Regions from separate parts of the Homo sapiens genome. Here regions 1 and 2 are each linked to region 3. Evidence: fine-mapped expression QTL. A gene starts in region 3. Each other region holds a variant in brackets. All regions are shown on one strand. Distances are between the middles of the regions.

Region 1 (4,239 bases), 20 kb before region 3:
CGAGTGGCTCCTTGCTAGCACGCCTCGCTCACAGCTTAGCTGTTACCGTTCTCAAGTCAGTGGTCTCGTCCGGAAGCATGATGATCATATTCAGTTCCTTGCCAACATATGGAAGCACCAAGATTTGGGTAAATATTTCTCCTATATAGGTCTTCTTAAAAGTAGATTGCTTAAACATCATTTGCACAGGTTTCTCCTCATTCTACAAAGAAAACAGATAAACATCAAGTTGAAACAAGACCCCACTGACACATGGGACAAATGTGTCGGAGCTGGCCACTCTCTGCAGGGAGAAACGCAGCTCGGTTTCTCCCCAGCTTCCAGAACACCCGGCAGCGCCTGCTCTGCCATCTTCATTACCTCAACCTCCAGAAACTGGGGTGCCCAGGGCCCAAACCCAACGTGTCTTTCCTCTCATTGATCGCATTCAGTCTCATGGCTTTAAACACAATATCACACCAAATTTACCTCCCGCCTGGGCCTCTGCCCTGTCCTTGGGCCTCCTGCATTTTACTGCCCACCTGCACCTATGTTTGGACATAAAAGAAACTCCCAGCGCCACCTGTAATGCGGCACTCCGTAGATCCTCCAAGTCGGCTCTGTCTACTGCAACTCTGCCCATCTCAGCTGAGGGCAGTGCCACTGTCCAGTGGTCAAAAGCCCTGGAGTGCCCCTGACTCCTGTCTTTCTCTCACACCCTGTGTCTGACTCACTGGCAAATTATATTGGCTCTACCTCGAGAATATAACAAAATCTGACCTGTTCCTTCTGCCTCTGCTGCTACCAGCCTAGCCCTGGAATATTGTGATAATATGATTGTGATTGTTCCCAGCACAGTGGCCAGAGGGGCCCGGTAGAACCTAAGGCAGATCACATTGTTCTTTGGCTGGACACCCTTCCCTGGCTCCCCATTTACTCGGAGCAGGAGCTGAAAGTCCCTAAAAAGCCTGGAATTGTGATAAGAGCTCGTCCCCAGTTCCCTCTCCCTTTGCTTATCTGCTACAGTCACAGAGGCCTCCTCACTGCACTGCCAGCAAACCCAGTTCATCTCATCTCTACGCAGTAAGCTTGTCCTCCAGAACCTGGAGAGTGAACTTCTGCCTCTTTACGGTCTTTGTTCAAAAACCACCTTGGCAGAGAAGCTGTCCTTGATAGATCTTACCTGACCCTACACTCCCACCCCAAACACAGATTCCTATCCCCTCCCTTGGTATGTCTCTGTACCATTTACCACTGTCTAATATGCTCCTATTTTCTTATTTATGCTTGCTGTCTCTCCCCCAAGAAAACATAAGCTTCACCAGGGCAAGCATGCTTTGCTTGTTTTGTGCATGGCTGAAAAATACCTAGCACCATGCCTGATACATAGAAGACACTCAGTCAGGTTAGGCATGGTGGCTCATGCCTGTAATCCCACCATTTTGGGAGGCTGAGGCAGACGGATCACCTGAGGTCAGGAAATCGAGACCAGCCTGGCCAACATGGTGAAACCCCACCTCTACTAAAAATAGAAAAATTAGCTGGGCATGGTGGTGCGCTCCTGTAATCCCAGCTACTCGGGAGGCTGAGGTAGGAGAATCACTTGAACCCGGGAGGCAGAGGTTGCAGTGACCCAAGATTGCACCGCTGCACTCCAGCCTGGGAGACAGACCGAGACTCCATCTCAAAAAAAAAAAAAAAAAGGCACTCAGTCAATCTCTGCTGAATAAATGATAAATGCATAAACGAATTAATGAGCTGGGATGCTAAAAAGGCCAGGCAACATTTACACATCTCACCAGAAAAAACTGCACTGGTCACCAACCCCAGCCAGCCAATGAGAAAGACTGGAGGCCAGGAACCACACCCCATCCAACAATCCCCCTCAGTTCCTGACTCGGAGCTGCTCCTGTGAGTTGAGTAAATACCCTGCAATAGGCACAGTCAAAGACGCCGTATGGTCCCCAGTCTCTGGTGTAGCACATTCTTCTGTGTTAAATGGAATAAATAAAATACACTGCGGCGGCAGCTTTCTGCTTTCACGTGGTAGAGGCTCGCCTGGGCTGGCCCTTAGCCTTTGGCTAGAGCAGTCTCCTGGGCCTCGGCTGCCCCACTCATTTCCTTGGCCAGCAGTAGGCATGTTTCTTCCATAACTGACCAGACAGGAACTATTTTCCGGTTTGTGGCTACATGTACCATCTCCGTCACAACGACTCAGCTGTTGTTACAGGATGAAATAAGTAAGTAAATAAGCATGGGCCAGGCGTGGTGGCTCACGCCTGTAATCCCAGCACTGTGGGAGGCCCGGGCAGGTGGATCACCTGAGGTCAGGAGTTCGAGACCAACCTGACCAACATGGTGAAACCCCGTCTCTACTAAAAATGCAAAAATTAGCCGGGCATAGTGGCACACACCTGTAATCCCAGCTACTCAAGAGGCCACGGCAGGAGAATCACCTGAACCCGGGAGGCGGAGGCTGCAGTGTTCCGAGATGGCACCACTGCACTCCAGCCTGGGCAACAAGAGAGAAACTCTGTCTTGGAAAAA[A/T]TAAAAAATAAAAAAAAAAAATAAGCATGGCTGTGTTTCAGTAAACCTTTAAAAAAAATTAGGTGGTGGGCTGGCTTTGCTGTAGGCTGAAGTTTGCTGACCCCTGCCTTCAGTAATTCCTCCCTGCACCCCTTCAGGGTCCAAAGCCTCCAATCTTGCAATATAAAAAGATCTAACCTTAGTGACTGAATGATTCACTAAATACACAATTATATAGACAAGTTCCAGTTTATATAGAAGGTAATGAAATTAAAATAAGAATCTGTATCAACTCAAAATCTGTGCCCTTGGAGGTACACCTCTGGCCTCAGGCTGGTACGCTCAATACTGCAGCCCCTTCCTTCACCCTTCTTCACTGCAGAACTCAGAAAGCATGACGGGATTCCACATCTCCCCAAACCCACAAGACCTATAGTTCTGGCCTACACCATATAGAAAGCAGCTTTCCCTTTCTGAAACGCAGAACCACTAAGGGGAAGGTTTAGGCTCCCCTCCCCTCCCTTGTTCCTCCCCCTCCCTGCCACCGGGACTGCTGAAGCCAGCTCAGCCATCTTGTGACCATGAGGAAGAAGGCGACGTGCTGAGAATGGTGGAGCCGCCTCCCTGGGATCATCGCCCCAGTGCCAGACCAGCCCAGGTCTCACCTGCCTCCAGACCTCCTAGCAGGGGAGATGAGCTCCTAGGAGATAAACCATGGTGAACCGGGGTTTCTGTTATCTGTAGTCAAAGCCCTTGTACATCTTGTTAATCATTAAATTTTAAAGAGAGAAATTATTTTGCCAGGGGAAAATAGCACAGTTCATTTCAGAATAAAGCTTCAAAGAAAATAATTCTTTCTGAATTGCGAGGAGAACAGACAATGAAAATAAATTTCTTGAAAAACTGAAGGCTCAAGTTCAAGTTAGCCTGGAAGATCTAACTATGGTCAATGATCAAGAATACACTGTAATTAATCTATTCTGTTTACTTTGTCTATGTTCAAAAATTTCTATAGTTAAAGAAAAACAAAACAAGAGACAATAAAGAAGATTCAGTGAGAGGAAGATAAAGGGCCATCAGCAAATGACATCTTCCACGCTGGAGGTGGTTAATCTCAGTGTCTATCTACATGTTTGGTTTGGTTGTTTTAAAACAAAAATCTGTACTTATCCTTACTATCAAGAGAGGACTGAATATCACTCATCGGTTCAGCATTTACTAAGCACCAGCTACGTGTCTGGCACTTGTCAGAGAGTCCTCCCTGCTCAGCCTCAATTCAGCAGGCTGAGTTGTTCCGCTCCTGCAGTGTGGCACGGAGGCCAGCAGGAGGCGCGGTAGCGGGGCTTCCCGGGACGCCGCCAGAAAGAAAGGAGTGGGTAGGTCCTGATGGGAATGAAGCTAGAGAAAAGGAGGAAATGTCCGCTAGAAGATGGCACGCCATATCTGGAGTCTGAGCTTTAAGACCTTGATCGAGCCTGAGGGCTGCAGCTTCAGACTTGCCCTGTAGGTGGCAGGGCGGATGCCAGGCGCCCAGGGACACGAGGCCACCCAATGGATGTCAAGCAGGAGGGGCAGGGACAGAAAGGCCCCACGGCTGCAGACGCGGGAGGCCCCGAGCCGGAGACGCTCGTGTGAACACAGGCGCTGCTCCTGTCACGGCCCCTTACTCGCCTTGCTGACTTTAAACAGTCTCTCCTCGGTGTTCTCCTTGTCAAACTGTTCATCCCAGTTTCC
Region 2 (4,239 bases), 32 kb before region 3:
AAGGGAGGACATACCGCTTTAAAGAACTTGTAACACCACACGGGTCTGTGGCTTCATTCCCGAAGTCAGTAAGACCAATGAACCCACCAGCACAGTGTTTTTGGTGATGGTTGTTTTTAGCAACCTTAACTGTAAAAATTTCTCGTTTAAAATCATGAATTACGTGTTAAGGTTTCAACGTATGAATTTGTGGAGGGGGCTGGGCACAATTCACTGCATAGCAAATAACTGTACTTTGAGAATAACGTATATTTAAAGTTTAAATTGTGAATTTTAAAAATTCAATTTGATCTTTTCCAAACATTTTTAAAGAACGATTTGACAGTCTTAGGTCCTCTAATAAAAATCACTTGCAGTGAATTTTTAAAAAATGGACAAGTAATAGTTGTGTAGACTTTTGCAATGTTATGTTTTGATACATGCTTACATGGTAGTGAAACTGGGCAAGTTCCCTTGTTCCTCTCGGGATGTGTGATGGGGCTGATGGCTCACTTTAGTGCCCTGCTGCTCCAACTTTTAGGAGAGAATACAGACAGGTAGGCTGTGGGGCTCCAACCCTTTTGCAGTGTCTAGGGCTGAATGTTTACAACTCCTGAAGCTCCACTGGGCATGTGTTAGAGTGCTTTTTTAGTTTAGCTATCCATAGGTGGCTTGTGTTAACCAGTTCAATCAGACCCCTACCTTATCGCAAGGACAGAGGGCTTTCTGTATCCTGGGGTTCCTGCCTTGGTGTACCAGAAGAATCGGATCACATGTGGGCTTGGAGAATGAGTGCAAGGTAAGTCTGGCAACCTGGGCTCTCCTTCAACTGCCCCCGTCAAACTGCGTTGTTCTGCCGGTGGATGGCCTGCCTGCATGCCGGTGCCTGCTGGTGCATCCCATTCCTCTCAACTTCCAGCCGCTCGTGTGTTCCTCCACTGATGTACTCCTCTCGATATGCAGCCACCTGTGTGTCTGCCTGCTAGCGTCTCAGGGTTTTACAGGCACAGGGTAGGGGCGTGGCAGGCCAGGGTGGTCTTGAGAAGTGCAACATTGGGGCAGGAAAACAAAAATGCCTGTCCTCAACTAGGTCCGTGGGCACAGGCCCAGGGTTGGAGCCCTAGCCAGGGACCACGCCCTTCCCCCCCCCGCCATGTTATTTAAAGAGAGCACACCCTTCCATATCAGTGGAATGGCTAAAACAAGCTAATTCCCATACGCATTACCTCATCTATTTTTTTTGTGATGAGAATGTCAGAGTAGGCGGTTAGACGTGAGCAGGGCATGCACGGGCCCCCAAGAATGTTGGACATTTGTCAAGCCACAGTCACAATTATAAATCTGTCCCTCTGAAATAATGAGCAAGACAAGGAAGGGACCCCAGAGCTGTCTGGTTCTCATTGGGACCGGGATTGAAGGGCATAAAACTATCCCTCTAGGGTAATAAGTGGCCATGGCTGGCGCTGGGAATAACAGGAGTCTTGCAACAGACAGAAGACACCTGGAGTTAGCAAGGCAGTCCCAGACAAGGTTTTGAGCATGTGCAGTAATAGAAAGGTGTGAAATTTACCCGGTGTATGACTTTCCTCTAGGGGCGCTCGACCAGTAAGGGAGAATTGCATCTAATGGGCATGCGCACAACTTCAGTAACCATCCAGCGCCTACTGGGAGGGCTACTGGGCATGCAATACTTGAGGGCCAGCCCGGGAGGTGAAGAACAAAGAGTGGAGACAGCCTGGAAAAGAGTAAGGGGTATAAAAACTGTAAGCAGGCCTGGGGTGGTGGCTCACGCCTGTAGTTCCAGCACTTTGGGAGGCTGAGGCAGGTGGATCATGAAGTCAGGAGATCAAGACCATCCTGGTTTACATGGTGAAACCCTGTCTCTACTAAAAATACAAAAAATCAGCCAGGCGTGGTGGCAAGCACCTGTAGTCCCAGCTACTCGGGAGGCTGAGGCAGGAGAATCGCTTGAACCCTGGAGACAAAGGTTGCAGTCAGCTGAGATTGTACCACTGCACTCCAGCCTGGGCAATAGAGCGAGACTCCGTCCAAAAAAAAAAAAAAATCAAAGCGGAAGCAGCACTTGATTTTTGAAGTCTCCTGCTTGACCCTCTTCCAAGCCTACTTTCTCCAATGAACTTTCACATTGCTTAAAATAAATGTTCCCTTGCCTGTCTCTCATTTGAATTCTTTCCTTTTAAAAGTACAAAGTGAGAAGTGACAGCATGCTGGCAGTCCTCACAGCCCTCGGTCGCTCTGGGTGCCTCCTCTGCCTGGGCTCCCACTTTGGCGGCACTTGAGGAGCCCTTCAGCCCGCCGCTGCACTGTTGGAGTCCGTTTCTGGGCTGGCCACGCAAGGCCGGAGCC[G/A]GCTTCCTCAGCTTGCAGGGAGGTGTGCAGAGAGAGGCGCCAGCGGGAACTGGGGCTGTGCGCGGCGCTTGCGGGCCAGCTGGAGTTCCGGGTGGGCGTGGGCTTGGCGGGCCCCGCACTCGGAGCAGCCGGCCGGCCATGCCGGCCTCGGGCAATGAGGGGTTTAGCACCCGGGCCAGTGGCTGCAGAGGGTGTACTGGGTTCCCCCATAGTGCCAGCCCACCAGCGCTGCGCCCTATTTCTCACTGGGCCTTAGCTGCCTTCCCGCGGGGCAGGACTTGGGACCTGCAGCCCGCCATGCCCGAGCCTCCCTGATGAACACCACCCCCTACTCCATGGCTCCCAGTCCCATCGACCACCCAAGGGCTGAAGAGTGTGGGCGCATGGCGTGGGAGTGGCAGGCAGCTCCACCTGCAGCCCCAGTACAGGATCCACTGGGTGAAGCCAGCTGGGCTCCTGAGTCTGGTGGGGACCATGGAGAACATTTGTGTCTGGCCCAGCGATTGTAAATACACCAATCGGCACTCTGTATCTAGCTCAAGGTTTGTAAACACACCAATCAGCATCCTGCATCTAGCTCAAGGTTTAGTGAATGCACCAATTGACACTCTATATCTAGCTACTCTGGTGGGGCCTTGGAGAACCTTTATGTCTAGCTCAGGGATTGTAAACGCACCAATCAGCGCCCTGTCAAAACAGACCACTTGGTTCTACCAATCAGCAGGATGTGGGTGGGGCCAGATAAAAGAATAAAAGCAGGCTGCCGGAGCTTGTAGTGGTAACCCGTTGGGGTTTTCTGTGCTGTGATAAGGTTTGTTCGTTTGCATTTGGCGTCTGCGTTGCCTTTATGAGCTGTAGCGCTCACTGCGAAAATTGTCACTTTATTTCTGAAGTGGGTGAGATGACGAGCCCGGCAGGAGGAACGAAACACTCATCTGTGAAAGTTGCAACTTCATTTCTGAAGTAGGTGAGACGACTCTGTGAAAGTTGCAACTTCATTTCTGAAGTGGGTGAGACGACGAGCCCATTAGGAGGAACGGAACACTCACTGCGAAAGTTGCAATTTCATTTCTATAGTGGGTGAGACGACGAGCCCAGTGAGAGTGAACGAACAACTCCAGGCGCGCCGCCTTAAGAGCTATAGTATTCACTGAGGGTTTGCGGTTTTATTCTTGAAGTCAGTGAAACCAAAAACCAATTTCTGGGTGTAAAAAGACCAAGGTTCTTGCAAGGTTGCTCCTCCCAAATTCCTTCAGATAGGGGAAGACACACAGTTTACAAGAACATTTTGAATCTTACTCATTTTCAAGTATATAATATATATTTTTAATTGTAGCCAACATGACTTACAATAAGTAAACTTAAAAAGATATAAGCCACCCATGTTGGGTGTGGGGGTACATGCCAGTAATCCCAGCTGCGTGGGAGGCTGAGGTGGGGTAGATTGCTGGAGTCCAGGAATTTGAGGCCAGCCTGGGCAACATAACACCCCATTTCTGAAAGTAAACAAAGCCCTAATTATGTTCATTTTCCCCCTTCATTTTCAGATTTCCCATTTTGGCCACGCTTCACATGCGACACATATAGAAGTACACAGCAGCTTCCCCCCTTACCTGCAAGGGATATGTTCAGAGATCTCCAGTGGATGCCTGAAACTATGGATAGTACTGAATCCTATATATACTGTTTTTTTCTATACATATAATAAAGTTTATAAATTAGGTACAGTAAGAGATTAAAAACTCAAAATATGAGTTAAACTCATATGCAATATAATATATGCAATAAAATTGAAATACTGTCAAACTCTGTAAAGTATTTGAAGAGATTTGTTCTGAGCCAAATGTGAGTGACCGTGGCCTCTGACACAGCCCCTGGAGATCCTGAGAACAC
Region 3 (4,239 bases):
TATCAACAAATTATAAACAATCTAGTGAGATTTTTCTATCGAGGGCTTTCTGTTATCCTTTCAGCAAACGTGTGAGTAACAAGGATGCCTGTTTCACAGTCACGTTGCAAACTCAAGACCTGTCAATGGCTTTTTAAGGACCTACTTCTTTAGCTTCAGTAAATAAGATAGCTAAGTGTCCTTCATATATATATGTGAATACACATGTATATATGTACATAGACAAATATTTATGCAAAATTAATTGTTTCAAAATTTAAAAACTATACCATTTAAAAATAAAAAATGATATTTAATCACAGACATAAAAACTGGATATTAAAGTCTTATTAATGAACAATTTTATGTATTTTTTAAACAAGCCTAACAAATCTATCCTGGCATCACTTTTTTTTTCCTGTAGCATCACCAGTAACTGAGCAATGTTCACAATTGATTTTATTCAACTAATCAAGTCTTAATTTTTTTTTAGGTGTCACTATTGAATTGTGCTTCTCAACTTCTATTAAGGATGCCTTTATTTCCTACTAAATTTAACCATTTAAAGACTGGTTTAATGGAAACTTGGACTTCCTGCTTTGTCCCTCTGTTTCCTTGTGCAGTGTGTATGTGTGTGTGTGTGTGTGTTGTGTGTGTATGTGTTTAATATATCTGAGCAGCCTAACATATAAATGGGAGTTAAACATTATTTTCAGGCTAGGCGCAGTGGCTCACATCTGTAATCCCAGCACTTTGGGAGGCCAAGGCGGGCAGATCACGAGGTCAGGAGTTTGAGACCAGCCTGGCCAGCATGGTGAAACCCCATTGCTACTAAAAATACAAAAATTAGCCAGGTATGGAGCCCGGGAGGTGGAGGTTGCAGTCAGCCGAAATCGCACCACTGCACTCCAGCCTGGCAAAAAAAAAAAAAAAAAAAATTTTCTTTCTTTGGATGCCTTGGCTTAATCCCAAGTGCAGTAAGCCTGGAAATGTAAGGTGTGTGGTCTTCCCTGGGACCGTACAACATCTGCTTGGGTGCCCTTATTATTACATATGTGGAAAAGAATGTTGGTTCTATTCATGCTAATTTCACTCTACTGTTACTGGTCCGTGTTAACTGTTTCATGCTGAATTGTAATAAAATGCATTGGAATTGGCCTTAACTTAAAATACTTAGTTTACATAGTCGAGTATGACCAAAGTACTTTTCTCTTTGGTGGCACATCACAATGGATGCAATTACTCAGATACGGTCCTGAAATGAGAACAAACGCCATCTATGCTGATAACAGCAGTCACTGGTGTTAATCCCAGCACACATAAAAGCCCCAGCAATACAAGGCCGGCCCAGGACCTTAACTAGAAGGTCACTGAACACATCAGATCTCATCGCATCAGGCCTGACCCCCACCAGAAAGGATGCAGGCAGCTGCAGGGCTGTCATTAGGCACGAGAGCATCCCAGAAAGCAAAAGTGCCCAAAAAATGGACTCAGATGCCCCCTCGCATCTGAGTATTCCTGACAGCATGTGAACATTAATTATTAATTTTCTGTACCTCAGTTTTCCGAAGCCAATCTTTAGGACAAAAAAAAAAAAAAAAAAAAGGAAGAAAATAACTTAAATGCCAATTTGTAGTTAAAGTTTCCTCTTTGCCTTGAAGACATCAAAGCCTGTAATAGTTTGCCTGTAGGGAGTTTAATTCAAACACAGAGCGGTAAGGAGATCCGGGCTGGTCCACACGATCGTCTCCACAGGTCTGGGCGACCTGAAAGTGCTGCGGATTGGCCAAGCCCAGCACGGCCAGTCCAGTGAACACACGCAGGGGGCCCGGATGGCACCGTTTGGCGCCGAACCCCTCGGCCTCTCTCCGCCTCCCGCCCGGCTCCTAACACCCGGCGCCCCAAGACTGAGCACGCGTCCTCCGGGTCGCGGAGCGGGCGAGGGGTCACCGAGGCCGCGGGGCCGACCGGGGTCACCTGTGGCCCGGGAGGCTCTGCGCCGCCCCCATCCCGCGCCGGCCGCCTCTTCCGTGGGCGCTGGGCCTGGGCGCCCGGGGTCCTCGGGTCCGCGGCGTCACCGGCCGGGCTCGCGGCCACGCACGACTCACCCGGCCGCGTCGCCGTTCTCTGCCGCTGCGAGGCTCCGGAAGGGAACCCAAGCCGGACGCTCGCCCGGGCCCCCGCCCCGCTGGGACTGCTGGGGTCACAGCCCCGCGCGGCCACGCCCCATTCTCGGGGCTCCAGCGTCCCCGCGCGCCGTCGACCCACGCGCGTTCCCGGCCCCGCGCGACCCCCACCCTGCCCCCCTCCCCGCTCGCGCCCCCGGCTTTCCCGACTTTGGAGCGACAAACCCAAGCCAGCGTGTCCGAGCGGCTCCCAAGCCAGACACGTACTCCAGAGCGGGGAGCGAGCGAGCAGAACGGCGGGCAGAGGCGCCGGAGCCGCCCCGGACCTCAAATACTCGCGGGGAGGCGGGCGGAGTCCCGGGTCTCGAGCTACCGTCGCCCGTCCGGAGCGCGAAGGGAGAGGCGGGGCGGGACGTGCGGGTCAACCCCACCCGCCAGCCGGAGGGGCCGCGAGTCCTGCCCGGAGGCCTTGACTTTGACCACAGTACAGGGCCCCACCAGCGTGTTTATGGTGCCTCTGTGGAGACTGAATGCTGGCCTGTTTCCAGAAAAGGGCCGGCTCCTGATACACGGCCATCCACTGGGGAGTGCAGAACACGCATTTAAAAATGAGCAGACTAGATACAGGTCACAAAGACTTTGCTGATGAAACAGCTTGCGGCAAAGAAGCCAGCCAGGGGCGGGCGCGGGGCTCACGCCAGTAATCCCAACACTGGGAGGCCGAGGCAGGCGGATCACTGGAGGTCAGGAGTTCCAGACCAGCCTGGCCAACATGGCAAAACCCCGTCTCTACTAAAAATACAAAAATTAGCCGAGTGTAATGGCGCGTGCCTGTAATCTCAGTTGCTGGGGAAGCTGAGGCAGGAGAATCACTTGAACCCGGGAGGCAGAGGCTGCAGTGAGCCGAGATGGCGCCACCGCACTCCAGTCTGGTCCGTCTCAAAAAAAAAAAAAAAAAAAAAAAAAAAAAAAGTAGACTAAATAGCTTTTGCAAAGCAAAAGGAATAGTCAAGCAGAGTAAACAGACAACCTACAGAGTGGGAGAAAATCTTCACAATCTATACATCCGACAAAGCAGTAATATCCAGAATCTACAAGAAACTCAAACAAATTAGCAAGAAAAAAAAATCCCATCAAAAAGTGGGCTGGCATGAATAGACAGTTCTCAAAAGAGGATATGCAAATGGCCAACAAACAAGAAAAAATGCTCAACATCACTAATGATTAGGGAAATGCAAATCAAAACCACAATGTGATACCACCTTACTCCCGCAAGAGTGGCCTTAATCAAAAAATCAAAAACTCAAAAAATAATAGATGTTGGCGTGGATTTGGTGAAGAGGGAACACCTCTACACTGCTGATGGATAGTACAACCACTGTGGAAAATAGTATGGCGATTCCTTAAATAACTAAAAATAGAACTACCATTTGATCCAGCAATCCCACTACTGGGTATCTACGCAGAGGAAAATAAGTCATTATACAAAAAAGATACTTGCACACGCATGTTAATAGCAGCACAATTCGTAATTGCAAAAACATGAAACCAACCCAAATGCCCATCAATCAAAGAGTGGATAAAGAAACTGTGGTATGCGTATACGGTGGAATGCTACTCAGCCATAAAAAGGAATGAATTAATGGCATTGGCAACCTGGATGGGATTGGAGACTGTTGTTCTAAGTGAAGTAACTCAGGAATGGAAAACCAAACATTGTATGTTCTCACTCATAAGTAGGACCTAAACTATGAGGATACAAAGGCATAAGAATGATACAATGGACTTTGGGGACTTGGGGGAAAAGGGTGGGAAGGGAGTGAGGGATAAAAGGCTACAAATTTGAGTTCAGTGTATACTGCTAAGGTGATAGATGCACCAGAATCTCACAAATCACCACTAAAGAACTTACTTGGCAGGGCGCAGTGGCTCATGCCCGTAATCTCAGCACTTTGGGAGGCCAAGGCAGGCAGATCATGAGGTCAGGAGTTCGAGACCAGCCTGGCCAGCATGGTGAAACCCCCGTCTCTACTAAAAATATAAAAAAATTAGGCATGGTGGCACACATCTGTAGTGCCAGCTACTGAGGAGGCTGAGGCAGGAGAATTGCTTGAATCTAGCAGGCGGAGGTTGG

What was found. PIP is the estimated chance that this variant, and not a neighbour inherited with it, causes the effect.
Region 1: its variant is the best candidate, but not a certain one, in a credible set for the expression of SERPINB6 in B cells (Fairfax 2012, PIP 0.56).
Region 2: its variant is the best candidate, but not a certain one, in a credible set for the expression of SERPINB6 in whole blood (INTERVAL, PIP 0.88).

The regions. Positions count from the first base shown.
Region 1 is chr6:2,948,868-2,953,106 of GRCh38, forward strand. It overlaps SERPINB6 (serpin family B member 6), which reads right to left. Exons shown (of 7, transcript NM_004568.6): 5 at 4,177-4,239; 6 at 47-202. Among named protein-coding and RNA genes, the nearest start is that of SERPINB6, 21 kb to the right of the region's middle. The variant A/T (reference allele first, on the strand shown) is at 2,527.
Region 2 is chr6:2,937,255-2,941,493 of GRCh38, forward strand. No RefSeq gene overlaps it. Among named protein-coding and RNA genes, the nearest start is that of SERPINB6, 32 kb to the right of the region's middle. The variant G/A (reference allele first, on the strand shown) is at 2,347.
Region 3 is chr6:2,969,161-2,973,399 of GRCh38, forward strand. SERPINB6 (serpin family B member 6) reads right to left here and starts at 2,407. Exons shown (of 7, transcript NM_004568.6): 1 at 2,373-2,407. RefSeq lists an enhancer at 2,188-2,712.